Linked DNA regions of Homo sapiens. The protein of the gene in region 1 interacts with the protein of each later gene in a biochemical or structural test. Each region holds a gene or a part of one and is shown on either strand. Other genes may lie near its edges. The genes, in order: SAE1 and ETV4.

Region 1 (15,526 bases):
ATCACTTGAGGTCAGGGGTTCGAGACCAGCCTGAACAACATGGTGAAACTCCGTCTGTACCAAAAATACAAAAACTAGCCAGGCGTGACAGTAGGCGCCTGTAATCCCAGCTACTCGGGAGGCTGAGGCAGGAGAATTGCTTGGACCTGGGAGGCGGAGGTTGTAGTGAGCTGAGATCACGCCACTGCACTCCAGCCTGGGCAACAGAGCGAGACTCTGTCTTTAAAAAAAAAAAAAAAAAGGTAAAAGCAATTCCTGTGTACATGCTCTTTTCATGCCACCATGTGTTTTGCTTGTGTGTTATACTTAACTAGTGCCTCTTCTCAGCACCTCTTCTGCTGTCATGCTAGTTTGAGCCACCATCATCCTCCCTCACCTTAACTGTGACATCTTCCTACCCCCATGGCTTTCCATCATGCCTCGAAGAAAATCCAGAATCCTTCCATTGCATGTAAGAGCCTTCATGATGTGGCCCCTTGTTCCAACTTTTCAGCCTCTCTGTCATTCCTGTCCCTAGAACATGCCAAGCACTCCTGCTTCAGGGCTTTTGCATTTGCTGTTTTCTCTATCTGGAATGTTCTGCTGCCAAATATCTGTGTGTTTGTCCTTTATTTCATTTTGATTTTTGCTCATATGGCATCTCCTCAGAAAGGCTTGTATGATTTCTGTCTCAAATAGCGTTCTCCATCATTCTTGATTCTTGTCACACTTGATTTTCATCACTTTTTCACATATTATGTATCTATTTGTTTATCTGTCTCCTACTTTTTCATGAGGGCAGGGACTATGTCTGATTCACCGCCTTATTTCCACACCATAGAAGGATGCCTGGCATAGTTGGTACTCAATAAATATTTGTTGAATGAATTGTTTTGTGCAGTATGGATTAGAGCCTGTCTCTTTCCTAGATTCGAGGTGTGATGCCTCAATGCAGTTAGAACCAAAATGATTTTTTTTTTTTTGAGACGGAGTCTCACTCTTGTTGCCCAAGTTGAAGTGCAGTGGCATGATCTCGGCTCACTGCAACCTCCGCCTCATGGTTTCAAGTGATTCTCCTGCCTCAGCCTCCCAAGTAGCTGAGATTACAGGCGCCTGCCACTACGCCCAGCTAGTTTTTGTATTTTAGTAGAGACGGGGTTTCACCGTGTTGGTCAGGCTGGTCTCGAACTCCTGACCTCAAGTGATCCGCCTATCTCAGCCTCCTAAAGTGCTGGGATTACAGGCATGAGCCACCGTGCCTGGCAAACCAAAATGATTTGTGTATTTTTTGTTCTTCTGTGATTCTGCAAGCTCACTGTTCTGTATCATCAGGTTAACAATGTTTGTCTTACAGGCTGCGGGCCTCTCGGGTGCTTCTTGTCGGCTTGAAAGGACTTGGGGCTGAAATTGCCAAGAATCTCATCTTGGCAGGAGTGAAAGGACTGACCATGCTGGATCACGAACAGGTGCGCTGTTGTGAGCTCATTCCTCCCCTGCTCTGGCTCCCCTTTCCAGCATGAAGATCTGCAGATTTTGTGAGTTCCTCCTTGTGCCTTAAGGGCTGTGAAAGGAGGGCTAACATTAATAAACCATTGCCTCTGGAGACTGAAGGTGCTATTGTTGGGTTTGAATTCTAGCTCCACCACATCTAGCTGGATGAGCAGTAGAGACTCACACCCCCTCATTGAGCTTGCCTGCCTGTAAAATGGGGTTAGTAATATCTCCCTTGGTGGTTGCTTGTGAGGAGGTGTAGAGAAGTGTTTTTCCAATTTGTGCCTAAAAATGACCTGAGTGACTAACTGAAAATGCAGAGTGGCCTGGAGGCTTCGTGGTGCCCTAGCTTTCACCCCTAGTGATTCTCATTTAGGTCTGAGGCGAGCTCAGGAGTATGTGCATTTAAAAGGTGTTTTAGGGCTGGACGCAGTGGCTCATGCCTGTAATCCCAACACTTTGGAAGGCTGAGGCAGGCGGATCATCTGAGGTCAGGAGTTTGAGACTAGCCTGGCCAACATGGCAAAACTCTGTCTGTACTCAGTATACAAAAATTAGCCAGGCATGTTGGTGTGCACCTGTAATCCCAGCTACTCGGGAGGCTGAGGCACAAGAATCGCTTGAATCTGGGAGGTGGAGTTTGCAGTGAGCTGAGATGGCACCACTGCACTCCAGCCTGGGCAACAGAGTGAGACTTTGCCTTAAAAAGAAATAAATTAATGAAAGGTGTTTCAGGAGATTATGATTTAGATGGTCCACAGACATCACTTTAAAAAACACTGGATCAGGCCAGGCACAGTGGCTCATGCCTGTAATCCCAGCACTTTGGGAGGCTGAGGCGGGCAGATCATGAGGTCAGGAGATCGAGACCATCCTGGCTAGCACGGTGAAACCCCATCACTACTAAAGACACAAAAAATTAGCAGGGCTTGGTGGCGGGCGCCTGTGGTCCCAGCTACTCGGGAGGCTGAGGCAAGAGAATGGCGTGAACCTGGGAGGCGGAGCTTGCAACGAGCCGAGATCATGCCACTGCACTCCAGCCTTGGCAACAGAGTGAGACTCCGTTTCAACAACAACAACAACAAAAACAAACAAAAACAAACAACACTGGATCAGAGAGAATGTGGGCAGACTGCTTTGTATAGTGCTTGAACCTAACAAGTATCCAGTAATTAGGAATAATGATCTGACATGCTGTTTGTTTGTTTGTGTGTTTTTGCGAGACGAGTCTTGCTGTGATGCCCAGACTGGAGTGCAATGGCGCAATCTCCGCACACTGCAACCTCCGCTTCCCGGGCTCAAGTGATTCTCCTGCCTCAGCCTCTGAAGTAGCTGGGATTACAGGCACGCACCACCACGCCTGGCTAAGTTTTGTTTTGTTTTTTTTTTGAGACGGAGTTTAGCTCTTGTTGCCCAGGCTGGAGTGCAATGGCGTGATCTTGGCTCACTGCAACCTCTGCCTCCCAGGTTCAAGCAATTCTCCTGCCTCAATCTCCCGAGTAGCTGGGATTACAGGCATGCAACACCATGCCTGGCTAATTTAACGTTTTTAGTAGAGACCGGGTTTCTCCATGTTGGTCAAGCTGGTCTTGAACTCCGACCTCAGGTGATCCTCCCACCTCGGCCTCCCAAAGTGCTGGGATTGCAGGCGTGAGCCACCGCACCCGGCCATGCCTGGCTAAGTTTTGTTATTTTTAGTAGAGATGGGGTTTCACCATATTGGCCAGGTTGGTCTCGAACTCCTGACCTCAGGTGATCCGCTGGCCTCGGCCTCCCAAAGTGCGGTGATTACAGGTGTGAGCTACCATCCCCTGCTGACATAATGCTGTTTGATTAATATTATAATGGTAGAGCCCAACTCCAATGTAGCTTTCTCTGACCAGGCTCATCTTCAAGGTGAAAATAAGTGCTGCTCTCTCTACATTCCCATGCCTCAGTGACATTTTATTTATTTTATTTATTTATTTTGAGACAAAGACTTACTCTGTCGCCCAGGCTGGAGTACAGTGACACAACCTCAGCTCACTGCAACCTCTGCCTCCCGGGTTCAAGCACTTCTCCTGCCTCAGCTTCCCTAGTAGCTGGGATTACATAATTACTTCATCTGGTTGTAAGAATCCAACATTGGAGGCCAATCACAGAACAGTGCGATTCTGACACCACAGGTGTGAGGCCACTGCACCCATCTTAGAGCGTATTATGTAGTTTACATTCAACAAGCATCTGAGAGCACCTACTGGGTGCCCTGAAGTCTGCTAGGTGCTGGTGATAGAAAGATGCTCACGGTTTGGTTCCCATTCTCAAGGTTTTTTTTTTTTTTTTTTTCCGGAAACCATAGCAGGCTCCCTGACTGAGGTTGTGGTACATGAAAGATTTCCTGGAGTCCTGATCTGAGCTAAGTCTTAAAGAACAAGGAGGGTTGTCAAGATAAGAGCCTGTGTTTTAGGCAGGGGACATAGCAGTGTCACAAAGGCACCCTACAGTGTGGTAGAAATGGAAGCTAAAAGTAGTTTGGTGTTTTTAGAGTGTGAGACCCAAAGTGGTGGGTAGGGACAGGTTGCTGGTGAAGTCCAAGTCAGGAGGGGCTCCTAGGAAGCCCCACTGTAAGCTTTTACTTAATCCTCTGGGTGGTGCAGACTCACTGAAGAGTTTCAAATGACAGGAAGGGTGACATGGTTAGCTTTGGGCTTTATGTGTAGATCAGTAATTACTGTATAAACTATGGTTGGCACAAAATACAGGGCAGAAGACCACTTAGAAGGCAGTTTTTAGTAGTTTAGGTGAGAGGTGAAAGTGGCCTTGCTGATAGGGATGGCAGGAAGCACACAGATGTGAGAAATAGATTTAGGTGGTAGAATTGGGAGGTCTGTGTATGGGAGCTTAAGGAAAGCCAGGAATAACCAGAGCAGCTGACACTGAAGGGGCTAGGCACTGTTCTCAGAGCTGCAGTTGTATTATCTCATTGAGTCCTCACAACACATCTGAGATCAAGGACCCATTACCATCCCTGTTTTACAGATGGGAAAACTGAGTAAAAGGAAGAAAAGTACTGGCCCATCCAAGGCCCCAGTAGTTAGTGGTACGGCCGGGACCCAGGCATCTGACTCCAGAGCCCATGTTCTCAGCCACCTCACTATGGACCACTCTCATGGAAATAGCAAGGATATGAAGATGAGGCTTCTGGCTTGAGTGACTGGGTGGGTGGCTGGTGGACTCCGGAGACAGCACACAGAAGCAGGCAGACATGTAGGGTTTATGGATATCTGAGAGAAAACGGCTGGTGGGCAGTACAGTAGAGAAGACTCAGGTGGATCAGGAAGAAATCTGCACCAGAAAGAGTGATTTGAAAAATAACAGCAGATTTTGGTAGAAACTGAAAGAGGCATTGAGTTGGTTTATGGAGCTATACAGAGTGGAAAGATAAGTAATTCTGAGATGGAAGCTTGGGGACAGCCACACCTAAGAGGGCCCAAATTGAGACTAGAATGTGTAGCACGAGAGGAGAGCAAAGCAAGGAAGGTGTGATCTGTGGACTGATAGTGATGAAATGATAATTGTATGTGTATGGGTTTTTTTTTTTTTTTTTTTTTTTTTTTTGAGGCAGTCTCACTGTTACCCTTGCCGGAATGCAGTGGGCATGATCATGGCTCACTGTAGCCTTAACTTCCTGGGCTCAGGGTATTCTCCCACTTAAGCCTCCCAGTAGTTGGGACTACAGGTGCACGCCACCACACCTGGCTAATTTTTTGTATTTTTTGTAGAGACTGGGTTTCATGATTGTTGCTCAGGCTGGTCTTGAACTTTCTGGGCTCAATTATATGTTTTTTTTGTTTGTTTTTTTGAGATGGAGTCTCACTTGTCGCCCAGGCCGGAGTGCAGTGGTGAGATCTTGGCTCACTGCAACCTCCGCCTCCTGGGTTCAAGTGATTCTCCTGTCTCAGCCTCCCAAGTAGCTAGGATTACAGGCGTGTGCCACCACACCCGGCTAATTTTTGTATTTTTAGTAGAGATGGGGTTTCACCATGTTGGCTAGGCTGGTCTCGAACTTCTGACCTCAAGTGATCCACCCACCTCAGCCTCCCAAGCTGCTGGGTTTACAGGTGTGAGCCACCGTGCCCAGCCTCAACTGTATTTTTTTTTTTTTTTGAGACAGAGTCTCGCTCTGTTGCCCAGGCTGGAGTGCAGTGGCGCGATCTTGGCTCACTGCAAGCTCTGCCTCCCGGGTTCACACCATTCTCCTGCCTCAGCCTCCCTAGTAGCTGGGACTACAGGCGCCCACCACCACGCCTGGCTAATTTTTTTGTATTTTTTAGTAGAGATGGGGTTTCACCGTATTAGCCAGGATGGTCTCGATCTCCTGACCTCGTGATCTGCCTGCCTTGGCCTCCCAAAGTGCTGGGATTACAGGCGTGAGCCACCACGCGTGGCCCTCAACTGTACGTTTTTATCCATGTCCTCGTTTTATATGGGATTCCCACATTCTTGCTGAGGTTCACACAGTTGTTGAGCCAGGATTTGAATCAAAGATTGAATCCAGCCTGAATTATTTCAGAGCCTTACTGTTAACCATTGTGTGGTACAGCTTCTCAGCACATAATGAGATCCCTGAAGAAGCAGGATGGAATGGGTCAAGGATACAGGGTTAGCCTAGAATGGGAAGTGGGCCAGCTCATTTTCTTGGAGGAGAAGGTAGTAAGATAGAGAGTGTGCTGTGGATGGTTGGTAGGAGGTGTTGAGGGGAGATTACTTCTGTTGTACCTAGTCTTGGTGAAGGTGGCAAGGTTATTTGCAGAGATTAATGGTTAAATTAGATGTTTGATGTGTGAAGAAATACTTTGAGAGCAGTATGGAATCTGTAATCTTACTGGTGGCTATTAGGGGATTATATTATCCTGTCTTTGAGGCTCTGCTCTGCTGATGTTCAGCCTTAGGGGTGAAATAATTCCTCTGTTCCAGTCCCCACTCATCTCTCCACCTCTCTGAGTTCTTTTTTTTTTTTTTTGAGACAGAGTCTCACTCTGTTGCCCAGGCTGGAGTGCAGTGGCACGACCTGGGCTCAATGCAGCGTCTGCCTCCCAGGTTCAAGCGATTCTCCTGCCTCAGCCTCCCGAGTAGCTGGAATTACAGGCGTGTGCCACCACGTCCGGCTAATTTTGTATTTTTAGTAGAGATGGGGTTTCACCATGTTGGTCAGGCTGGTTTTGAACTCTGGACCTCAGGTGATCTGCCTGCCTCGGCCTCCCAAAGTGCTGGGATTACAAGCGTGAGCCACCGCACCTGGCCATAGTCTATCTATGTTTTTTAAAAGTTCATTTCAAGCATTCTTAATTGTGTCTGATTTTTGCACAAGTTTGATTTTTTTTTTAAGTTTTCTCATGAGGTTGCAATTTTTGTTGTTTTTTGAGAGAGGGCCTCTCTGTGTTGTCCAGGCTAGTCTTGAGCTCCTGGCCTCAAGCAGTGATCCTCCTGCTTTGGCGTCCCAAATTGCTGGGATTACAGATGTGAGCTACTGTGCCAGGCTGCACTGGTCTACTTTTTTTTTTTTTTTTTTTTTTTTTGAGACGGAGTCTTGCTCTGTTGCCCAGGCTGGAGTACAGTGGTGCAATCGCAGCTCACTGCAACCTCCGCCTCCCCTGTTGAAGTGATTCTCCTGCCTCAGCCTCCTGGGTAGCTGGGATTACAGGCACACACCACCACACCTGGCTTATTTTTGTATTTTTAGTAGAGATGGCATTTCACCATGTTGGCCAGGTTGGTCTCAAACTCCTGACCTCAGGTGATCCTCCTGCCTCGGCCTCCCAAAGTGCTGGGATTACAGGTGTGAGCCACCGTGCCCTGCCCACACTGGTCTAGTTTTAAACCACTGGAAGACAGAGATTTAATCCTTTAAACTACTTGTGTATTTCCCCAAATGCTTATAGTTGGGCACATGCTAAGTATTTAGTCAATTCTTGCCACTGTTAATCAGTCATTTGTTAGCAGTTACAAATTTGCATAGAAGAAGAAAGCATGGATTTTTTTGTTGACAGTGAATTTTCTTTATAAACACAAGGGGGTGCTCTTTAACCATCAATGACCAGTTTAAAAAAAGTTTAAAGTCATTTTAAAGCCTTAGAAGGAAGCCTGCATAAGGCAAATTGCTACAGGAACAGTAATACATTTTAGGGCTGTGCACAGTGTTTCATGCCTGTAATCTCAGCACTTTGGGAGGCTGAGGCAGGCGGATCACGAGGTCAAGAGATTGAGACCATCCTGGCAAACGTGGTGAAACCCTGTCTCTACTAAAAATACAAAAATTAGCTGTTGTGGTGGTGCGTGCTTGTAGTCCCAGCTACTTGGGAGGCTGAGGCAGGAGGAGAATCATTTGAACCCAGGAGGCGGAGGTTGCAATGAGCCGAGATCATGCCACTGCACTCCAGCCTGGTGACAGAGCAAGACTGTCTCAAAAAAAAAAAAAAAAAAAAATTTAGGTGGTAGGTATTTTAGCTATCCTTTAAAATTTAAAGATTCTTTTTAAGATTTATTTTCCCTAAAAATACAAGACTTAAAAAAATATGTGTATTATTCCTAGGTAACTCCAGAAGATCCCGGAGCTCAGTTCTTGATTCGTACTGGGTCTGTTGGCCGAAATAGGGCTGAAGCCTCTTTGGAGCGAGCTCAGAATCTCAACCCCATGGTGGATGTGAAGGTGGACACTGAGGATATAGAGAAGAAACCAGAGTCATTTTTCACTCAATTCGATGCTGTAAGTTTCTTATTATAAAATCTGCTGTGGGAATTAAACAAATTAAGGTGCTAGTTGTATATACTTTCAAATCCCAAAGCAATCTGAGAGCATTCAAATATCAAATTCTGAGCTTTTTCCCAAGAAAATGTATAAGCTGTTCTATTGTTTAGGCTTAGTATATTGTGTGAATGTGTTGCTAGAGAGGTCCAGTCTGTTGCATCTGCTGTAGTTGTTGGTGACTTGCTGTCTGCTGGCTTCTTCTCTGGGCATATGTTCCCTCAGCCAGGTTTCGTCTTTGGTGTTTTGTCTTCCTTCCAGAATCTTTGCACATAACTTTAATCCATGTTATTGCAAATGTTTTCTTCCGAAAACTTAACAAGTTGGTGATTAATTTCTGTGGCAGCGGCATTTTTTTGTTAGAAATATCAAACTACAGCTTGTGTTTTGTCTTAAGAAAAGCACACCTGATCTTGATCTATGTCTGTCTGTCTGTTTCTCACAGTCACATTGACCATGTTGCCATGGATAACTAGAGAAAAATCACTGTAGTCGTAAGTCAAATGAGGCATATCCAGCCTCATTTAGTTTCACTGCCAAATCTATGCGGAGGTGAAAGGATAAATTCTTTGTCAATATCTGCAACCTTTCAGACATAGTTCCCTGCATTCTGGAAAAGCTTAACAAATCTTGATAAATGTGAAATAGTCATAGATGAGCTACTAGTTTTTTAAATGAAAGGCCCCAGTATGTTACATGAGAGGTTAGAATTTGGGTTGGGTAGTTTTTTTTTTTTGCACCTTTTTTTATTTGAGATGGAGTTTTGCTCTTGTCGCCCAGGCTGGAGTGCAATTGTGCGATCTTGGCTCATGGCAACCTCTGCCTCCTGGGTTCAAGTGATTCTCCTGCCTCAGCCTCCCAAGTAGCTAGGATTACAGGCACTCACCACCATGCTGGGCTAATTTTTTGTATTTTTAGTAGAGATGGGGTTTCACCATGTTGGTCAGGCTGGTCTTGAACCCCTGACCTCAGGTAATCCACCTGCCTCGGCCTCCCAAAGTGGTGGGATTACAGGTGTGAGCCACTGCACCTGGCCTGTTTTTTACACTTTTCTTTCTTTCTTTCTTTCTTTTTTGAGATGGAGTCTCACTCTGTCGCCCAGGCTGGAGTGCAGTGGCATGATCTTGGCTCACTGCAACCTCCGCCTCCCTGGTTTAAGCAGTTTTCTGCCTCAGCCTCCCGTTTTTACACTTTTCTATTTCATATGTGCATCTGTTCAAATATGGGCTTGGAAGGATGGATCATCTGTGCATTTGTCCTGTTTTCTTTTTCCTAGTCCCTTCTATTTTTTAACTTGAGGTATTGGGACACTTTCCATTTGGACATAAGTCTTCATTTTCTTATCTGTAGTAACCACATTTATTTTATGCCAGGTGTCCCTTGAACTTGTAGAGTTAGAGGGTTTGTTAAAACTGAAGTGTGAGGCCAGTTGATTGTGTAATGCGTGTGCATGGGGCCATGTTGACCGCCTTGCAGGCCGTGTTTGGCTGGTCCTTGCAGGTTTTATAGTTACTTTAGACTCTGCAGGGTTCCATTTGATCAATTGGTTGCATGTTCACCTGTGGATTTCTTACTTTTTAGATGGGATTTTTCCTTGGGTGGCTGCATTCTTTGAAACACCAAAGGAACACATTTCTCTGTGAGTGTTATTTCGGTATTCAGGCTGCTAGACAACAGCAAAGAGGGTCTATCAAGTGAAAATGTCCTTTTGTTCAGGAGAAAGCATGTGCAATTTGGAAGTTGTCTTTTGACCATGATCACAAAGCTTCTCCCGAAAAGATGGTATTTTGTGCAGTAGAACTTAGCCATTTCCAATACCTCAACTTACTGGAATACAACCTGGAGGCCCCAGAGCAACACTGATAATTCCACTGAGTGGATCACCAGTTCATTGTCTAAGCCTGAATGGAAGGTCACTTGGTCTGTAACCTTTTCTTTTGTCCTTAAATTCAGATAAAGTTTCACACCGCAATCTGTGGAAAAATGATCTCAACAGGACTTGTTTATCTTCTTTATCTTAACATATCAATCAAAAGGAGGGGGGTAAAAAGCCCTTGTATTTAAACATGACCTTTGGGTCAATTTAAAAAACTGGTTTTGCTTGTCCCTGTAGCTTATTTGGATTTTAATAGATTTAGCAGTATAGAAACAACTTGCTAAGTTATTTTTTTTATGAGAACTATGAAATGTGTATATGTTCGTGGATTACAGAAAACATTTGTTGAATGGCTTTTACTTTTTAGCTAAACACATTTTATTTTGGCTGCAGAACGTGACGGTCTCATAACTTATATTTTCTACACATTGAAACCTGCAACTTTTCTTTTGTCTTCTAGCCATAGGGCCCAAAGAACCTGTTGTACCAGTTTGAAACATGCTTTGAGCATGCCCAGAGAGACTGTTCATTAAGATTTATTTAGACATCAGGGCAGTGATTCACAGTTTGCAAAACTCAAACCCAGCCAATTTCTTTCTTTCTGCAGGTGTGTCTGACTTGCTGCTCCAGGGATGTCATAGTTAAAGTTGACCAGATCTGTCACAAAAATAGCATCAAGTTCTTTACAGGAGATGTTTTTGGCTACCATGGATACACATTTGCCAATCTAGGAGAGCATGAGTTTGTAGAGTAAGTGTTGGGAGAGGAGGGGAGAACATAACATTTTCTCCTTTTTATACTTTTTTTTTTTAAATTATGTATTTATTTATGTGTAGAGACAGGATCTATGCTATGTTGTTCAAGCTGGTCTTGAACTCCTGGGCTCAAGTGATCCTCCCACCTTGGCCTCCCAAAGTGCTGGGATTATAGGCATGATCCACTGCGCCTGGTCTGCTGACATGTTTTCAAGTTGAGAGATAGTAAAATGATTACAAAATAGTTGGGCGATTCTGGAGGCATATTCAACCAAAGTCTACCTTGGAAAAGGTGTCCAATATCCAGAGAGACTCCTCTGGTAGAACAAACAGACCTCATCCTCTCATTTTGAACACTGAGGCTGCAGAACTTGGTAATTCTTACATGACAGGACTTGCCGTGTTTTGACTTTGTAGTCTCTAGGTGAAAGATGGCAGATGATACATTATTGTAAAACTATATGAGTTAGGTATTTTGGCTGCAGTTTCTGACCACCCCCTCCAAAACCCTCCAACTTGCTAATTGAGAGGGAAAGACAGGCTCTGTGAGATAGGAGCTTCCTACCAAGAGACTGAGAACTCTTCTCTTGTTCAGCCTCTCAGGCAAGTCACTGAAATTTCTCTGGTCTCCAAGTTTCTTGCCTGTAAAATCAAGATGGGGGAAGGACAGTCATGTTCCAGACATCTCCTAACTCTAGTGTTTTATGGCTTTAGGATAATCTAGTTCTTTGGGCATATTATTATTATTATTATTTTATTTTTTGAGACGGAGTTTTGCTGTTGTTGCCCAGGCTGGAGTGCAATGGCACCATCTCAGTTCAGAACAATCTCTGCCTCCTGGGTTCAAGCCATTCTCCTGCCTCAGCCTCCGGAGTAGCTGAGATTACAGGCATGCGTCACCATGCCTGGCTAATTTTGTATTTTTAGTAGAGACAGGGTTTTTCCATGTTGGTCAGGCTGGTCTTGAACTCCGGACCTCAGGTGATCCACCCACCTCGGCCTCCCAAAGTGCTGGGATTACACAGGCGTGAGCCACCGCACCCGGCTATTATTATTATTTTTGAGACGGAGTTTTGCTTTTGTCACCCAGGCTGGAGTGCCATGGCACGATCTTGGCTCACTGCAACCTCCACCTCCTGGATTCAAGTGGTTCTCCTGCTTCAGCTTCCTGAGTAGCTGGGACTGCAGGCACCCGCCACCATGCCCGGCAAATTTTTGTATTTTTAGCAGAGACGGGGTTTCACTATGTTGGCTATGCTGGTCTTGAACTCCTGACCTCAGGTGGTCCACCCACCTCAGCTTCACAAAGTACTAGGATTACAGCCACCATGCCTGGCTTCTTTGGGTATATTATAAAGAAGTTATAGTAGTGGGAAGCAATCCAGATTATTTTAACATAAGCTGCCCACAGCAGAGGGGCAGAATTAAGTTTGGCTTTTTTTTTTTTTTTTTTTTTTTTTTTTTTCTGAGACAGACTTTCACTCAGTTGCCCAGGCTGGAGTACAGTGGCGTGATCTCAGCTCATTGCAACCTCCTCCTCCTGGGGTCAACCAATTCTCCTGCCTCAGCCTCCCAAGTAGCTGGGATTACAGGCGCCCACCACCACGCCCGGCTAGTTTTTTGTATTTTTAGTAGAGACGGGGTTTTGCTATGTTGGCCAGGATGGTCTCAAACCCTTGACCTCAGGTGACACGCCCGCCTTGGCCTCCCACAGTGCTGGGATTACAGGCGTGAGCCACTGCACCCAGCCAAGTTTGGCTATTTATTTCATGATTCAAGTAGAGTGTTTACAAAGTAATCACTTTGATTTATTGAGAGCAGCTGTGTGCCCAGCAGTGTGCTGAGCAACTTACGCTGCTCTGTTTTTCCCACAATAATTTCCTGAGTGCCCAACAGTGTACCAGACTCATCATGTTATCAATGGCAGAGCTCGATTTGAACCGAGATCTGACTCCAAAGCTTTTGCCCTTAACCACCATCCCGATCTGTGACCTGGAGAGGCTTTTTTTGATTCCAATAACATGATTCCTAGGGTAAAATTACATTCTCTCCCCTTGTCACCCTCTAGGGAGAAAACTAAAGTTGCCAAAGTTAGCCAAGGAGTAGAAGATGGGCCCGACACCAAGAGAGCAAAACTTGATTCTTCTGAGACAACGATGGTCAAAAAGGTATGTGTAACGTGGGGGCAGAGGTCAGAAACCCTGGGGCCTTGGAGGGGTCAGGCAATGACGATTGAAAAGGATAAGAGCAAGCACTTCTTGAAGGGGTGGGGCGGGTGCTTGTCCCATCTAAAGGGAGGCTGCCACAGCTTAGTGTCAGCCAGCTGTTGCTGTGAGGGAATGTGGGCCCAGTGATTCCAGATGGGATTTTTCAAGACAATGAGAAATGCAAACTTTTGTAGGCTCTGTCCCAAACTTTTTTTTTTGTGTGTGTGAGATGGAATTTTTTCTTGTCGCTCAGGCTGGAGTGCAATGGCATGATCTCGGCTCACTACAGCCTCCACCTCCTGGGTTCAAGCAATTCTCCTGCCTCATCCTCCCAAGTAGCACCCCTGGCTAATTTTTTTTTGTATTTTTAGTAGAGACGGGGTTTCACCATGTTGGCCAGGCTGGTCTCGAACTCCTGACCTCAGGTGATCCACCCGCCTCAGCCTCCCAAAGTGCTGGGATTACAGGCGTGAGCCACCATGCCCGGCCCCATACCCTTTTTTTTTTTTTTTTTGAGATGGAGTCTTGCTGTGTCCAGGCTGGAGTGGCACAATCTCAGCTCACTGCAACCTCCACGTCCCAGGTTCAAGAGATTTTCCTGCCTCAGCCTCCCAAGTAGCTGGGACTACAGGTGTGTGCCACCACACCCAGCTAATTTTTGTATTTTTAGTAGAGACGGGGTTCCACCATGTTGGCCAGGATGGTATTTATCTCTTGACCTCGTGGTCCACCTGCCTCAGCCCCACAAAGTGCTGGGATTACAGGCATGAGCCACCATGCCCGACCAGAAAACTTTTTTTTTTAAAGCAGCAAAACACCAGCCCTGGGTTACAGTAGCAAGACCCCGTGTCTACAAAAAAAATGTAAAAATTTGTCTGGCGTGATGGTGAGCACCTGTAGGCCCAGCTACTCATAGGCTGAGCTGGGAGGATTGTTTGAGCCTGGGAGGTGGAGGCTGCAGTGAGCCATGGTCACACCACTGCACCCCAACCTGGGCCACCTAGCAAGATCCTGTCTAAAAAAAAAAAAAGCAAAACAAAAAATTTTTTGTATTTTCTCTACTAACAATACAAAAATTAGCTGGGCAAGGTGGTGCGTTGCTTGTAGTCCCAGCTACTTGGGAGGCTGAGGCAGGAGAATAGCTTGAACTGGGGAGGCGGATGTTGCAGTGAGCCGAGACGGCAACACTGCACTCCAGCCTGGCGACAGAACGAGACTCTGTCTCCAAAAAAAAAAGTTTTCTTTGCCTGTTTTTTTCCTTTTGCCAAATAACCTTTAATAAGAAAAATCCTTCAATGTTGTCTTGCTGTGTCCAGGCTGGAGTGGCACAATCTCAGCTCACTGCAACCTCCACGTCCCAGGTTCAAGAGATTTTCCTGCCTCAGCCTCCCAAGTAGCTGGGACTACAGGTGTGTGCCACCACACCCAGCTAATTTTTGTATTTTTAGTAGAGATGGGGTTCCACCATGTTGGCCAGGATGGTATGAATCCTCAGATTCATATTTGTTAATGTAGTTTATATTAGGGGCTCAGCCTCTATTTGGATTAGGTGCAATAATTACATTTATAGAAAGGAGTGGAGAAGGGATCAGAAGACGATGGTTTCTGTAGCTAGTGCTGGAATCTGAGATGGGAACCATGCGATGGGGAAAGCAAGATGAAGGGGCCAGAATTGGTTTCATTGAACTGAGAGGAAAGACATGACCAAGCCCATATTTACTCTTTGCTTTGTAGATTTAAATGTTGAGAAAGAAAAACAGCTGGTCAGAATGTTGAGTTAAATTACGCTAACGAGGGGATTCTAAAGAGTGCAGAAACCACAAAAGAGACTGCAGAAAACCACAAAAGTGGAACTCTCAGACTCTCCAGCAAGGCGGCGTTGGAGATTTTCTTTCTCATTTTGTGTTTGTGTTGGAGTAGTTTGGTGCTGTAAGTGTGATACAGAGGAATTAAGCCCTAATTTTAGTGTCTATTCACAGAACCATAATTATCCAGAGTGAACCTTGGTGTTTTGGCCAAAACTTGGGTGCCTTTCTTTCTTTTTGAGGCCCAGTCAAGATTTATCTGAATAGCTCCGTGAATTTGGTGGGGGGAGATAAATTGTTAACAAACGGAGGAGTACAAAAGCTGCTTTGTGGGTGCTGTCAGTTTATAAATCACACCCTCTTACAAGTGTGACACTTGGCCTTGGTGTGAAGGGTTTTATGGCTTAAGGGCCTTCTCTGATTGAGGCAGGTCTTTCACATTCAAATGGAGAGAGTGCCTAGCTTTGTTAGCCATTCACAGCTGGAAGTTTCCCTGGAGTCAGTTCTGATGGTGCCCACTGGGGTGGATCTGGAAACCTCTTTTGGGAACCACTTTATCTCGCTATGAGGAGAATGTGGGCAGCCCAGGCCTTTGCCCACCATTCCGGAGGGCCCTACAGGCACAGAGG
Region 2 (15,526 bases), on another chromosome or scaffold:
TTTAGAGTGGGCTCCGGAATGGGGGGTAGGGGGTTGGGGTGTCAGTATTTCTCCCTTTCTATTCCACTGCCCCCTGCCTCTACCACCCCACAGCTCAAGTCTTTATGGAGAACACTCAGGAATTGAAAAAACACCTGGGCCCATGAGCAGTGGGTTTCCCTGTCTCCTTACCTATGTTCCCCGAGGTACCCATGGCCAGGGTGGGGCTGGGAGGTGCCAGAGGATCTCAGGAAATTCCGTTGCTCTGCCCGGGGAAAGGGCTGTAGGGGCGACTGTCCAAGGGCACCAGGGGCAGGGGACTTGATGGCGATTTGTCTGGGGGGGTCATAGGCACTGGAGTTGAGAAGGAGACAGGGGTGAGGGGGCAGAGAAGCTGGAAAGCATCTTTGAACCCTTCATTCCTAGGAAAGCGAGGTCACAGGGATTACAGGAGAAGGAAGGATAGAGGGGGCTGAGAAGGGAACGGCAGGAGCCACAGACTCAGCCCTAGCCAATTCTTTTCTTTTTCAGAGACAGTCTCCCTCTGTTGCCCAGGCTAGTCTTGAACCCCTGGGATTCATACAGGGGGGATTTGTTGCTCAGAGCAATGGTTTAGGTGGGACAGTGGGCCTCTTGGTGGAAACAGAATCTGCTCTGGCCTCAGTATATATTCCTGAGGCCCTCTGCTGCGTTTTCCGTCTATTCAGAGGAAATCCTTAGCTGTATTGCTTCCTTACAAGTGCTAGAAAATCCTTTCTGTTGTCTAACTTGCATCTCAGCTGCTGCCTCTGCTCATGGGTGCCCCCTGCCTCCCTCCTCTGGAACCCTTCTCCTACCCTTCACCAGGTCCAGGCTGGGGCTCACCTGGAGTAAAGGCACTGCTCGCCATGGTGGTAGGGGAGTGGCGGCTTCCTGCTGCAGGACAGGGCCGGGTCTGTGCGGGGACTCTGGGGCTCCTTCTTGATCCTGGTGGTGGGGCTGTGGAAAGCTACTGTGGGGGTGGAGGGGACAGAGCAAGGCCAGAGCCTGTCACACAAGAGGCAGGCAGGGCTTCTGATACCTTCTGAGCTTTGAGGACCAGCTGGGTGACTGGTACAGCCTCCTTCCCTCTCTGGGTATCAATTTTCTGAGACCCGCAGTGAGACAAGAACATTTTGGCTATTTACATTATGTCTAGTTTATACATCAGACTAGTGTCTGATTATTGACTAAATAAACCATCTAAAGTTCAACATTTAGGCTGGGCACGGTAGCTCACACCTGTAATCCCAGCACTTTGGGAGGCAGGAGTCCAAGACCAGCCTGGCCAACATGGTGAAACCCTGTCTCTACTAAAAATACAAAAAAAAATTAGCCGGGGATGGTGGCGGATGCCTGTAGTCCCAGCTACTCAGGAGGCTGGGGCAAGGGAATTGCTTGAACCCAGGAGGCGGGGATTGCAGTGAGCCGAGATCATGCCACTGCACTCCAGCCTGGGTGACAGAGCGAGACTCCGTCTCAAAAAGAAACAAAAAACAAAAACATTTAATGCAACCCCAGGCCCCAGAAAACACTTTCAAGGAGTGAGCACCTCCAACCTAGGGCCTGTAGTTTTCCTGAGTGCCCTGGAAAATTCCAGGGGAGTGACATGTTTTCTTATTTGAGGATATAAAGAATCTTTCTTGGCCGGGCGCGGTGGCTCACGCCTGTAATCCCAGCACTTTGGGAGGCCGAGGCGGGCGGATCACCTGAAGTCAGAAGTTCAAGACCAGCCTGACCAACATAGAGAAACCCCATCTCTACTAAAATACAAAAAAATTAGCCGGGCGTGGTGGCACATCCCTTTAATCCCAGCTACTCGGGAGGCTGAGGCAGGAGAATTGCTTGAACCTGGGAGGCAGCGGTTGCAGTGAGCCGAGATCACACCATTGCACTCCAGCCTGGGCAACAAGAGTGAAACTCTGTCTCTAAATAAATAAATAAAAGAATCTTTCTTTTTCTGGTTGAGGTTGGATATTGGCCCACTTGAATGTCAGCTGACTAACATTATACACATGCTCCTACTTATCTGTGAAGAACACTGGCCTTTCCTGTGGCCCCTGCGGGGTTCCCAAACTCTGGCCACGAGGCTGAGCAGCAAAGAGTTGGTTCCAAGCCGGTGTGAGATTCAGTTTTAACCGCAGTCCAGTCAAATGCCGTTTGTAACCAACTATTCTCTGCTGTTTTTGATTCTTTGTGCCCCATTGTTTCACTGGTGAAGACAGTTGACAGCAAAGTATCTGACATTAAAGCAGGGTTTGTTTTTTGGTTTTTGTTTTTTTTGAGATGGAGCCTCGCTCTGTCACCCAGGCTGGAGTGCAGTGGCTCAATCTTGCCTCACTGCAACCTCCGCCTCCCAGGTTCAAGCGATTCTCATGCCTCAGCCTCCTGAGTAGCTGGGATTACAGGTACACGCCACCATGCCCGGCTAATTTTTGTATTTTAGTAAAGACGGAATTTCATCATGTTGGCCAGGTTGGTCTCAAACTCCTGACCTCATGTGATCCACGCGCCTCAGCCTCCCAAAGTGCTGGGATTACAGGCGTGAGCCACCACACCCAGCCTAAAGCAGGGTTTCTCAACAGTGGCACTACTGACCTGTGGGCCAGATAGTGTTTTATTAATAATATTGTAAGGAGCGGTCCTGAGCATCATAGGATGCTTTTAGCAGTATCCCTGGCCTCTCTATCCACTAGACACCAGTAGCACCCCACCCTCAACTGTGACAACCAAAAATGTCTACAGATATTACCAAATGTCTCTTGGGAGGCAAAATTGTCCCCAGTTTATGGAAGTGACTTAGAATACTAGAACTGGGGGCGGGCGCACTGGGCTCACGCCTGTAGTCCCAACACTATGGGAGGCCGAGGTGGGCGGATCACAAGGTCAGGAATTCGAGACCATCCTGGCCAACATGGTGAAACCCCATCTCTACTAAAAATACAAAAATTAGCTGGGTGTGGTTGTGCATGCCTGTAATCCCAGCTACTCTGGAAGCTGAGGCAGGAGAATGGCTTAAACCCGGGAGGCGGAAGTTGCAGTGAGCCGAGATTGTGCCACTGCACTCCAGCCTGGGTGACAGAGCAAGACTCTGTCTTGGGGGGAAAACAAACAAACAAACAAACAAACAACACTAGAACTGGACTCTGCTGAACTGGCCCAGGCCCCTCACTTCAGATATAAGGCAATGGAGAACCAGAGGGATAGTGTCTGCTCTAAGGTCACACAGCAAGAACATGTCAAGCCCCAGATTTCAACCAAGGTTTTCATTCCAGTTATTGCCTTGGTCTTTAAGATCAAACCCCACTGTGTTTTAGGAGAGAACAAGCTGCTCTCTTGTGATTCTCTATCCTATGACTCACTTCCTGCCATCCTCCACTCCCTATACCCTCTCCCCAGGGACCTCTACTCACGGTTTTCTGAATGGAAATCAGGAACAAACTGCTCATCACTGTCTGGTACCTGAGCTGCAGAGAGAAGTCAGAGGTGAGTTTGGGGCGGAGCCCTGGTTGTCCCCTGGGAGGCTCCATTATTACAGCCCTGCAGATTAGCAACAGCCAAGAAAGGACCAACAGCCTTTAGATCAGGGGTGTCCACATTGTAAGAATTGTCTTGGGCCACACATAAAATACACAAATACACTAACACTAACGATAGCTGATGAACTTAAAATCACAAACAAATCTCATAATGTTTTAAGAAATTTTACAAGGAATTTATGTTGGGCCTGGGCCGCATTCAAAGCTACCCTGGGCTGAAAGTGGCCCACAGGCCCACGGGTTGGACAAGCTTGCTTGAGACTAAAGGCTGCTCCACCCTAGGTCCTAGTGTCTTCCACCTCTGGGCTCCACTAAGACCCAGGAGGGAAGACTGTTCTCAGAACCTGTCTGAGCAGATTCCAGTCTTTCTTCTTCTAGATGCTTTGTCTTTATTTCCTCCATTTTTCTGAAGTGAAACAGCCTCGCCCCTCAGAGTTTACAAAACTCCCTTAAAGCTCACAACAGTCATATCTAGGATGGGCAGGCATTATAAGCAGTGGGATCCTGTGGATTTAAAAATCACATAGGAGGCGGCCAGGCATGGTGGCTCACGCCTATAATCCCAGCACTTTGGGAAGTCAAGGCGGGTGGATCACCTGAGGTCCGGAGTTCGAGACCAGCCTGGCCAACATGACGAAACCCCATCTTTACTAAAAGTACAAAACTTAGCTGGTCGTGTTGGCGGGAGCCTATAATCCCAGCTACTCAGGAGCTGAGACAGAAGAATCGCTTGAACCTGGGAGGCAGAGGTTGCAGTGAGCTGAGATCGCACCACTGCACTCCAGCCTGGGCAACAAGAGTGAAACTCCATCTCAAAAGAAAAATAAAATTAAATAATAAATAAAATCACATAGGGGGGTGGCTGGGCGCAGTGGTTCATGCCTGTAATCCCAGCACTTTGGGAGGCTGAGGTGGGAGGATCACTTGAGATCAGGAGTTTGAGACCAGCCTGGCCAACAAAGTGAAACTCCCATCTCTACTAAAAAATTAAAAAATTAGTCAGGCGTGGCGGTGGGCACCTGTAATCCCAGCTACTCGGAAGGCTGAGGCAGGAGAATTGCTTGAACCCAGGAGGCAGAGGTTGCAGTCAGCTGAGATCATGCCACTGCACTCCAGCCTGGGTGACAAAGTGAGACTCTGTTCCAAAAAATGAAAAATAAAGGCCGGGCATGGTGGCTCATGCCTGTAATCCCAGCACTTTGGGAGGCCGTGGTGGGCGGATCACGAGGTCAGGAGTTTGAGACCAGCCTGACCAGCATGGTGAAATCCTGTCTCTACTAAAAATACAAAAATTAGGCCGGGCGCGGTGGCTCACGCCTGTAATCCCAGCACTTTGGGAGGCTGAGGCGGGCAGATCACCAGGTCAGGAGATCAGGACCATCCTGGCTAACACAGTGAAACCCTGTCTCTACTAAAAATACAAAAAAAATTAGCCGGGTGTGGTGGCGGGTGCCTGTAGTCCCAGCTAATCCTGAGGCAGGAGTATGCCTGAGGCAAGAGAATGGCGTGAACCTGGGAGGCGGAGCTTGTAGTGAGCCAAGATCAGGCCACTGCACTCCAGCCTGGGTGACAGAGCAAGACTCCATTTCAAAAAAAAAAAAAAAAAAATTAGCTGGACGTGGTGGCACGCCTGTAATCCCAACTATTCCGGAGGCTGAGACAGGAGAATAACTTGAACCCGGGAGGTGGAGGTTGCAGTGAGCTGAGATCACACCACTGCACTCCAGCCTGGCGACAGAGCAAGACTCCATCTCAAAAATAAATAAATAAAATAAAAAAGGAGGATGACAGTGGGAGAGCAGGAGGCTGGTGACTGGGACCACTGCAGAAGGCAAAGGACACTGGCTGAGTACATAGGTGCCTCATCCCCTTAATGTGCAGCTAAGGAGGGGAGGGATTCCCAAGGTTGGTGATCCGAAGAGCTCTCCCAGGATGCCAGGATGGGTGGAGCTGGGTTGGGGAATAGGCAGGAAAACTGAAATACAGCAGCAGCTCATCCATGGCTTCTAACCTGAACATCAAACTCTGATTTCTAGTTCTTATTCTGGCCTCCCCAGAGCGGGGCTTCTCAGGTGGTTATACAGCTAAGAATCTCCCTTGATCCCAGAGTCTTGGCCCACTTTTGCCCCTCTCTCAAAAATAAATGGATCACAGCAGGAAATGTAGACACCAAGAAGAACTTCCTGATATTATTCCAGGAAGAGAGTGGTTCTAGGGTGATGCAGTGGAACCTGTAGCCCGAGGAGGCTGGACTCTCCTTCCCTGGAGACTGCTCTCTCCTTCCCTGGAGACTGCTCTCAGATTGGACAATGGGGAAACTGATAAAATGCCCAGAGAGGTCAAAATGGCTGGTGAGGGGTATGAGATGGCTAGAAAAAACCTCCACACCCCCGGCCTATACAAATACATATCCCATCTCTTTTGCTTCTCTCTAGGCTAAGGCTCCATCATTTCTTACTTGGATTTCACCCACGGCCTCTTACCAGGATACCCTATTTTCATTCTTACCTCCTATGGTCCCTTGCTCTCCACCTAGGTGTCACAGTGATCTTTTTACAACAGAAATAAAATCATTTCTCTCTGTTATTTAAAGCATGAAATCCAAACGCTTGCCCTTGGCCTCCAAGGCTCTGCATGACTTGGCCTTGCCTACCTCTCTGACCTGCCTCTCCTTGCCTGTGAATCTGCAGCACTCTGGTCTCCTTTCTAGCCCTCAAAGCTGCTGAGCTTGTTCCTTCTTCCCCAGATGCTTTCTTGCCTTTTTCTTTTTTTCCTGACCATCAGAGTCTCAGCTCACTTTGACATCTCTGGAGAGGCCTTCTCTGACCACCCCTAAACCAAAGTGGTTCCTCCTGGCTCTCTATTGCATCTATGTTTTGTTTTCTCCCTGGCACATATTGCCACCTGAATATATTAATTTATGTTTACCTGTTTGTTATCTACCTATCTCCTCCACCAGGAAGTTAAGCTCTGTGAGGGCAAGAGCTTTATCTTTTTTGTCATCTGATGCCCCAGCACCCAGCACAGGGTTAGAGTAGACGCTCAGTGCTGTTATTTCTTGACTACATGAATAAACATGCAATAATCGTTTGTCCTCAGGCTGGCAGAAGTCAGCACTGTGGGCCTGAGGGCATGCACTGAAGAGATCCTGACCATCCTAGCCCTTCCCTGCAGGCTCCCCCTCTCCACACACAAGGCAACACTAGAGGCAGGTCCTCTCCAGGAAAGCACATCTCACAGGGGATATTTTAGGTTGTGATATGTTGCTTGGCAAGAATATTCTTCAACAATTTGCTTTAAATATCAGAGGTGCCAAGTGTTTATAAACATAGGCTTATATTAATAGATAGTTGATTTCTTGACAGAAGCATTAGGGAGAGGGAGTTTAACAATCACAAGCCACCAGCAGCTAAACGAGAACTTAGGACAAGTCAACATAATAATACTTTGGTCTGAAGTGACCAAAGACATCAATGAGACATGAAATCCGCTGGCAAGAACAAACAGAAACACACAGCCAGCACACATCTTTTCAGGAGCACAAACACGGCAAAAAGACAACCATTCCCAAACTGGCCTGATTCAAGAGTCACCAGGACGTTGTTAAAAACACGATTACAGCCAGGTGTGGTGGCTCACGCCTGTAATCCCAGCACTTTGGGAGGCTGAGGCAGGCAGACGATCTGAGGTCTGGAATTCTACACCAGCCTGGCCAATGTGGCGAAACCCCATCTCTACTAAAAATACAAAAATTAGCCAGGCATGGTGGTTCTCGCCTGTAATCCCAGCTACTCTGGAGGCTGAGACAGGAGAATCGCTTGAACCCAGGAGGTGGAGGTTGCAGTGAGCCAAGATAGCACCAATGCACTCCAGCCTGGGCAACAGAGTGAGACCCTGTCTCAAATAACAATAATAAAAATAAAATAAAAACACGATTCCCAGTCCCCTCCTCCGGAGAGTCCCATTCCATAGGACTGGGGTGGGGCCCAGGCATCTGCATTTTAAAATCTATTATAAGGAAGTCTCCTGTGTCAGGCTTGAGTGCAGTGGCACAATCAGAGCTCACTGCAGCCTCTAACTCCTGGGCTCAGGTAATCCTTTCACTTCAGCCACCACAACCTTAAAAATAGGCACATTTGGATAGAGGGTAAGAGGCCAAATCTGTCCACCTGCCCAGGGATGCAAAGCCAGGCTCCCCACTGTGCCCTCTGGTCCATTCAGAGGCAACATCCCCCAAGGTGGCAGGAAGCTGGGGTGATGGGAGCAGAGTGACCAACATTTCCCTCCCTCCTACTAGGCAAGAAGGGTCCCAAGGGAAAGGGTGGTGCAGAACTCAGGGGTGGCTGACGCATTCCGGCCCCACCCCTGGGGCCTCATTAACTGCTACTTTCCATTGAGGTAATGGGCTGGGGGTATCTCTTGCTGGCGTCACTGGTGCTGGAGAGCAGAGAACCCTCAGCATCATCTTGCCTTTCTTCCTGCCTCGGGCCTGACAGTTTAACCAGGGACCCCTCCAGGCCCGGAATCCAGGAGGAGGCTTCCTCCAGCACACAGACCACACCCCAAAAGAGGTGGTGCCATCCTCTTCCCAGAGCCAGGAGAAATCTGTCCTAGCTCAGCCCCTCCCCCAAACACTGGCCTTCTCCCAAAGGGGTAGGCCAGGGCCCTCAGTCATCCAGAGACTGTCAACAGGATAGAAACAGGAACACTGAGCCTCGCGTTCCTGGAGAGCAGGAGAATTTTTAATTACCATGTTTCGTCTTAAGTGTACACCACTCTCTTTATTTATTTGTTAACTTGGCTGAGTCTTGGCTGCCAAGCCAGTGTGCCAGGGTCTGTCCCCAGCTCCATCCCGGTACTAAGATGGAGTTTATCTGTCTGGGGACGAGGCAGATGATTAAGGAGGGGGTGGGAAAAGTGCCAAGACAGCATAATGCCCAGAGAGAGAGAAAGAATTTTAGGGACTCTCCTTTCAAAAAGGGGGGTTAGTAAAAAAAGAGGAGGGGCTTGGGGGGTCTCCCAAGCTGGATTCTGGAAGAACTGAGAGGTTAAAACAGAGATACACTGAAGCTCACCATAGGTTAGCCACCCACACTACATATGCTCGGTCACCCTCTTCCCAGGATCCAGTCATAGGGTGAAGGGGGTAGAGGCATTCTCCAGAGCTTCTGCTCCATTGTGTCACCGCTGTCCCTTACCCTGCCCCCACCCTGGCAGCCTCTGTACTGGAAGGAACCAGTTCACTAGTTGTGGAGGGGACATATTTGTCCCCAAGAGTCTTCAGGAAGGGGAAGAGACAGAAAGATGGAGAAGGAGGCATTGTAGCTGGGAAAGATTAGGGAGGAGATTAACCTCATCCCTCCCCACAGACATGCCGAGGCACCAGTGTACATGCACTCGGACGCATATTCAGGGATGCACACACCCTAATTCCTTTTACTTCACTCTTGCAGCAGCAAGACAGCACAGGGTGAAATGTGCCCTCCATGCATGCCCTCCACACATGGGGTCTTTTTTTGACCTACAAATATGATTGGGACAGCCAAAGGGCAAAGGGACTGGAGCCCTTGGAGGAGGGTTGGGGAGCAGTGATTCCTGTGAAAAGGGGAGCGCAGATCGATCGATCCCTTTGAGAATCTGATAAAAGCTATGGGTCATTCTCTTCCTAAAAAAATCCATACACCTTTATGTATGGTGCACTTCCAGCAATTTTACACACAGTATCAGAGGGATCAAGGATCCCAGCAACCTATCCATAGGGCTTCTGGGAATCCACAGACCTGAGCCTCACACAAAGGGGTCATGGCCTAGAGTCAATGGCCCTTACTACCAAATAGACAACAAAGTCATTTTCCCCAAGGATTCAGGGCTCCTGACAAGCCTGGAAAGGAACCTTGGACAAAAAACCAGCATATCTTTTACCATAGCCAGACACATATTGGGCTCAGCCTGCCTGAGCCTGGGTCTCCCTGTAGCAGCCTGATTCTTTCCCCAACATCTCAACAGATCCCAGGCACCCCCAAATCAGACACGCCCTCCTAGCCTCACATCATTCACCCCTGTGTACAAAAACCCAACCCCAAGGATATGTGAGCTGCCTCCATAAAGCCGCACTCACACTCACCCTTCAACGCCCGGACGCAGGACACTGAACCTGCAACCACACTGGAATCTTCCTGTATCTGCCCGGCTCCAACCTGTGCCTCCTCCAAATGCTGTCTTCACAGACCCACCCACACTACCAGGACCCCCCTGCTGCTTCTCTTCAAATTGGGGCTTTGGAAAAAACCAAACTGAGAAAGGGAGGTTGGGCTCTGGTCCCCTTTCCTCCTAATGCGTCCCACCACTGGCAAGTTTCCAAAGAAGCTAGTCCCTCCCTGCCACCCCAAAGCTCCCCATGGGTTGCCGGGGTCACTGACCTGGTGGGAAGAGACAGGAGAGGAGGCTGGGGTGGTGTTGGGATGGTGCAGGGGGACAGGGCCCCGGCAGCTGCATCTGTCTCCGCAGAGAAAGTGAGAAGGAGCGATCGGCCTCAGCATCCCCCCCTCAGACCTGGCCATCCATCACCAGCTGGGAACCTGAGCTGCTCCCTCAGAAGGAAGGAGAGGGAACCAAGGAGATCCCAGCGCCCACCCCCCTCACCTCCGCCTTGCAATCCCCACCCCACCTCCCCACCCACTGGATTTAAATGTACAGGGCAGCAGCATGTAACTAACACACACACACTCTCTCTCTCTCTCTCTCTCACACACACACTTGCTGTCACACCGACACTGACACAGACAGACATTTGTACCCTCTCCAGACCCCTGGCCAAGGGGTGGGACTTCCAAGGTAGAGAGATGAGAGCATTTTCCTCCCCCTCCCATCTCAAACCCAGGCACAGATGGACCAGCTGCTGCCAAAATGCCAACCTCAGCCCACCCCTAGCTCACAGCCCTAGGAGCTGCCCACTGTGGGGACTCTCAGCTGACAGGCAAGGAATGAAGCCCGGTGAGCCAGAGAGAAATCAGGCACTGGGAAAGGAAGTCTTTGAGAGCCCACGGAAACTGACACCTCTGCATTCTTCAGCTCTAGCCCAGCTCCAGAACCTCAGAAGAAGGATGGGGAGACGGGGCAAAGCTCTGCCTGTAAATTGGAGCTGGGCATGCAGGACTTGCAGGGTCGGGGATGATGCACACAATACCCTCAGAACCTCCAGATCCCTCCAGCACTCACACAGCCATTCAGCCATTATTTCCACAAAATGTCTTGAGTGCTTGCTCTATGCTAAATAGTCATTCTGTCAACATATATATTTTTAGAATATCATAGTGGGCAAGACAGACCTAGTCTCACTCCAAGGATCTAGTCAGGGGTCATTTTCTTTTTACTCCGAGCTTCTATGGAGAGTTCCAGGGTAGTTGGATTTGAGCTTTAAAAAAATTAGATACCCAGGGTGGAGGGATGAGGAGATCCTAAGGAAAATACCTCAAAAAGACCTCAAAAAAGGAGTTCCTAGTGTTTTGGCTTCTTCATTTTCATAGTGTTAAAATAAACCCTAAGATGGGGGTAGTTAACCCTTCCCTCTCAGAGACTGTCTAAACCACCATTTTCCCTCCCACCTGCAGCCCCACCAGCGACACCCTCAGGCCCCACCAAAACGCACTGAAGAATCCAACCAGGAAACCTCCTGAACACACCACTTCCCCATCAGACCCAGCCACGGACCCAGCCACGGACCCCACCCCAGCCAGCTCACAGCTAACTCCCCAGCACACAGGAAGGGGGGAATTTGCCTGGAGGCAGAGGTATTCAAGCGGGATGGAAGAGGGAGGAACACTTGCTATTAGAATTACAATCAAGGCTATTTGGGGAGGGAGCCCTGGGCTCTCTGTGCCAAAGGACTGCCGAAAAGAATTATTTAAACTTTTGTTGTTCTTTTGGCTTGGACAGTAAATTGTTTGGTGCTGGGGGTTGGGAAGAAGAGAAACCCAGGGGATAAGAATCAATGCTTGGGCAACTCTGGAGGATGAGTGACAAATTAATTTCTCCCCCCACCCCCCACCAACAACACCCCAACATGCACCTTGGCCTGGCGGCTTCTGCAAAACAAACTTTACAAATGAAAATTTCAACCAGGAAAATGGGCCTGGGGCCAAGTTCCATTCAAATAAGCAAATACCCCACACAATGGTCTGATTCATCCTCAAGCCTAGTTACACAAGCCTGGCTCAGGGTAGAGAAAATAAATATCAATATAAGTGTCCACGCTGGGTGCTGGGGTGAGTAGAGTGGCAAGGGACCTGGGGAGAGGGCCTTGGAGAACTCCTTGAGGCAGGGAAGGGAGAGGAGAAGTGTAGGGCTTAGGGTGGAATACCAGGGGCTACGGAGTGTCCCCCTGTCCAGCCTCCCAAAATAGAAAAGGTCACAAAACTACTCACCTTCAGCGAGCCACGTCTCCTGGAAGTGACTTAGATCCTGGAAGAGATCTGAGGGGTAAATAGTGGAATTGGAGGTGAGGTGGAGGGGACGGTAAGAGAGAAGGGGCCCTAGCAAGACCCGGTGACTCCCCTGCCTTGGGAGTAGGGACCGAGAAGAATGACCAAAATCCCTTGGAGGGCGAGTTTTTTGGGGAAACAGGCGGGGGTTCCAGAATCGGCCGTGTGTGTGTGTGTGTGTGTGTGTGTGTGTGTGTGTGTGTGGCGGAGGAGGGTCGCGGTTTGTCTCTCTTGCTCTTTACCTTCAGAGTCGAGGGGCGGCAGGGAGCCCGGGTCCATGAGCTTCCCCAGCGGGCCGATCAGCGCTTCGCGCAAGCTCCCATTTCCGGGCGATTTCTGCGAGAAGCGGGGAGAATGCCCGCGAGTCACCCTGAGGCGCTTAGTCTGGGGGACGAGGTTGGGGTCCTCGGGTGACTCAGGGGCGGGGCAGCCCAGGACTCCGCTGGGACTGCGGGGAGGGGGGCTGTGGTGAGAGTAGGGGCTGGGTGCGGGGCGGGGCGGGCGTGGAGGCCGGCGCGGCGCTCACGCTGCTGAAGGTGTAGGGCACTTGCTGGTCCAAGTATCCGGCTTTCATCCTCCGCTCCATCCGGCCGCTCCCTCCGGCCGCACGGCCGGGGCCCCAAGCGGGGGCCGAGACCTGGTGGGGGAGGGGGCTGCGTTCGCACACCGTCCAGGGAGGGCTGCGATGGGGGCGGGGAGGGGGCAGTCCCAAGGCTCTGGGTCCGACGGCGAAACTTCTCCGACTCACTGGGGCGATGGCGAGGTTTCCGCCTGCCAGGCCGAGCGCCACCACCACTCCCCTCCCGCCAAAGGCCAAAGGAGGTCCCACCTGCTCCCAGGAGCCGGGCTCGCCGTTTCTGCTTTCTGCAGCCCTGCTTTACCCGGGCTCGGTTACATAAGAACGTGTGTGTGTGTGTGTGTGTGTGTGTGTGTGTGTGTGTGTGTGTGTACGCGCGCGCGCGCGGAGGAGCAGGCGAAGCGCACACCATCGCATGCCCACAACTCCCGCGCCCCCTCCAACCCTGAATCCCAGCACCTCCCACCCCCGCCCTGGAATCTGCGGAGGCGGGTGGTGAGAGTGAGTGTGGTGTGCATTGGAGGCGAGGCGGGGAATCACAGACACTCTCCCTCCCTTTCCCTCCCGCAGCCTCACCTGAGGCCGGGGCGTCTGGGCTGGAGCCGCGGGGGGTCCCGAGCATGCCCTGGAGCCCGCACCGAGGGCCGCGGGGCTAGGCCGGAGTAAGGCGGCCCCGGCCCCGGGTCCCCAGCGCACCGACTTGTTTTTCGGGCGCAGCAGACAGTTGTGAGCCCGGGGGAGCAGCTGATTGGTGCATTTCCTTCGCTCGGCCTCAGCTCTCCACCCCCCGCCCCGCCACACCGCCCCCCGTTTCCCTTTGTTTCATTGACTTTTGTGAATGGAACCCCAGGGCTGGGCACGCCCGCCAATCCGGAGAGTCGTCCGGCCTGGCCGGGGGGCGGAGTTTCCCAGCCGCGGGGGCCAATCAGAATGTAGGGGTTGGCTCCCGGCTTCATTCAGTGCTCCGGCTCCCATTCATAAAAAAATAAAACTCGCGGCTGGAGTTCATTCATAAAGAACCGAGAGAAAAAGAGAGAAGCCGAGGACCCCGCGGCTTCTTCACCGTCTCGCCACGGTCTTGGGTCTGATGCGCCGCGTGCTCCTCCGGCTGGCGTCTGCACACGTCTCTGCATCTGCGTGTACGTGGGAGTATGAACATGTCTGTGTGCGCCCAGGAGGGAGGCGACCGGGCTTGTGTGCCCAGAGGAACAATAATAACTAGCATTTATGAAGCGCTCCGCTTCCACGTGCTCATTTCGTTCCCATAACCCGGCGAAATGGATCGTTTGTATCTTACAGATATTAAAAATGAAACTCAGAGAGGGATGGTAACTCTCCTGAGGTCACTCAGCTAGTCAGCACCTCTGGGGTTTACAGCCTCAAATCCCTCACACTCTCCTGTACACCCCTCTGAAGCCATGATTAAATGAGTTAAGCTATGTGACAACTGATACACAGTAGGTGATCAATAAATGTAAACTGGCACAGAATCCAGGCTTTTCCTCAAGGGTCTGTTCTCTGCAGAGCTGTTTTGTGACCCACTTTCTACTGATTGCAGCAGAAACCAGAAGCCCCAGGGTAGATGATTTCCGAAAGTGTAGCTCCCTCTCAGCCATCTTCCCTCTTATCTGAGAGCCAGCAAAAGGAGCAAAAGCCCCAAAGGTTCTGATGATCTGGAGGCAGGATGGGTTTCAGTTTTAGCTAAGAAGCTGGTCATAGTCTCTGTCATCTCATCCATTCACCACTTCTTTCAATAAACATTTATCGTGTCAGATACAGTGCTGGGTTCCAGGCAAGCAGCTATGTCCAAGACAGACATCTGAGGGGACCTGGGGTGCTTGGGCTGTGGCCATGGGGGCACAAAGGACATGAATCCTCAAAGGCCTTTTTGCTGAGACAATTCTCTATGTCTCCAGCCTATGCACTCCTTTGAGGACAGCCTGATTTTTTATCCTGCCTGTTTGTGATAAACACAAAAGAATGTTCAAATGCCAGGCCAGCAGGAGTGGCTTCCCAAATTCATCTAACCTAACACCCGCCACTTTACAGATGAGGCAGTGGAGTTTCAGAGAAGGAAATGACACATGTAAGCTCTTTGGGCCTGTCTGGCCAGAACTAAGGCTAAAACATACAATTGCTGTTTAGTGTTCATAAGGGCTCATTCCATGAGATCTGCTTGTGCAAATGGAAGTAAACTTCCCTTTCTATAGGTGCTGTAATATTCTATAAGGCTCATGTCTATTGTCCCTCTCCTCCAGGAAGCCTTCCATGATAGCCTGAATCAGTTCCTTTAGCCATATACAACATTCTTGACTATATCTCTGGTGTGGATGTTTTTCATCCTGCCTCATGGTATAGACATCCTTATCTATGGAGAGCTCTCCAGAGCTCATTTGCCTCTGAAAGTCCTCCTCAGCCTGTTAGCATGCTTATGAGGGTGGCATGAAATGCTTGTGTAGTGAATAGGTACAATAAAGACCAAATTAATTGAGCTTAGCAGGAACCCTGCCCAAGGAAGGAGAAACAAGCCCAAGCAAATCCCAGCTTTGGGCTGGATGGAACCAGTTTAGAGACAAGTGTGAGTTCTGGCCAAGAGAAGTGGAGAGGAGGACAGAGGGCTCTTCCTGGAAGGCAGCTTTGATGTGGTCTCCATGACAACGAAGAAGAGTCCAGTAGGTCTTTAAGTTGGTACTGGGCACTTCAGTAGGATGGGACCTCTCTAGGGATGCCAGTGCCCCTCTGGTTCTGAGTTTTTTTGTTTTTGTTTTTGAGACAGAGTTTCACTCTTGTTGCCCACACTGGAGTGCAAAGGTGCAATCTCGGCTCACTGCAACCTCCGCCTCCCGGGTTCAAGCGATTCTCCTGCCTCAGCCTCCCGAGCAGCTGGGATTACAGGTGCCCGCCACCATACCTGGCTAATTTTTTGTATTTTT

The links.
Region 2: of the proteins of SAE1 (region 1) and ETV4, one has a biochemical effect on the other in vitro, tested with the Homo sapiens proteins (one study listed by BioGRID).

What each region holds. Positions count from the first base shown.
Region 1 is NC_000019.10:47,142,161-47,157,686, forward strand, and holds part of SAE1 (SUMO-activating enzyme subunit 1), read left to right. Parts: intron 1-1,333; coding exon 1,334-1,445; intron 1,446-8,041; coding exon 8,042-8,215; intron 8,216-10,737; coding exon 10,738-10,880; intron 10,881-12,953; coding exon 12,954-13,053; intron 13,054-14,509; exon of another isoform or gene 14,510-15,021; intron 15,022-15,526. UniProt on the Homo sapiens protein: The heterodimer acts as an E1 ligase for SUMO1, SUMO2, SUMO3, and probably SUMO4. It mediates ATP-dependent activation of SUMO proteins followed by formation of a thioester bond between a SUMO protein and a conserved active site cysteine residue on UBA2/SAE2.
Region 2 is NC_000017.11:43,533,016-43,548,541, forward strand, and holds the start of ETV4 (ETS translocation variant 4), read right to left. Parts: upstream 13,326-15,526; 5' UTR 13,170-13,325; intron 12,885-13,169; exon of another isoform or gene 12,765-12,884; intron 12,654-12,764; 5' UTR 12,603-12,653; coding exon 12,543-12,602; intron 12,353-12,542; coding exon 12,259-12,352; intron 12,008-12,258; coding exon 11,960-12,007; intron 11,785-11,959; exon of another isoform or gene 11,147-11,784; intron 3,760-11,146; exon of another isoform or gene 3,465-3,759; coding exon 3,411-3,464; coding exon of another isoform or gene 3,397-3,410; intron 971-3,396; coding exon 844-970; intron 334-843; coding exon 172-333; intron 1-171.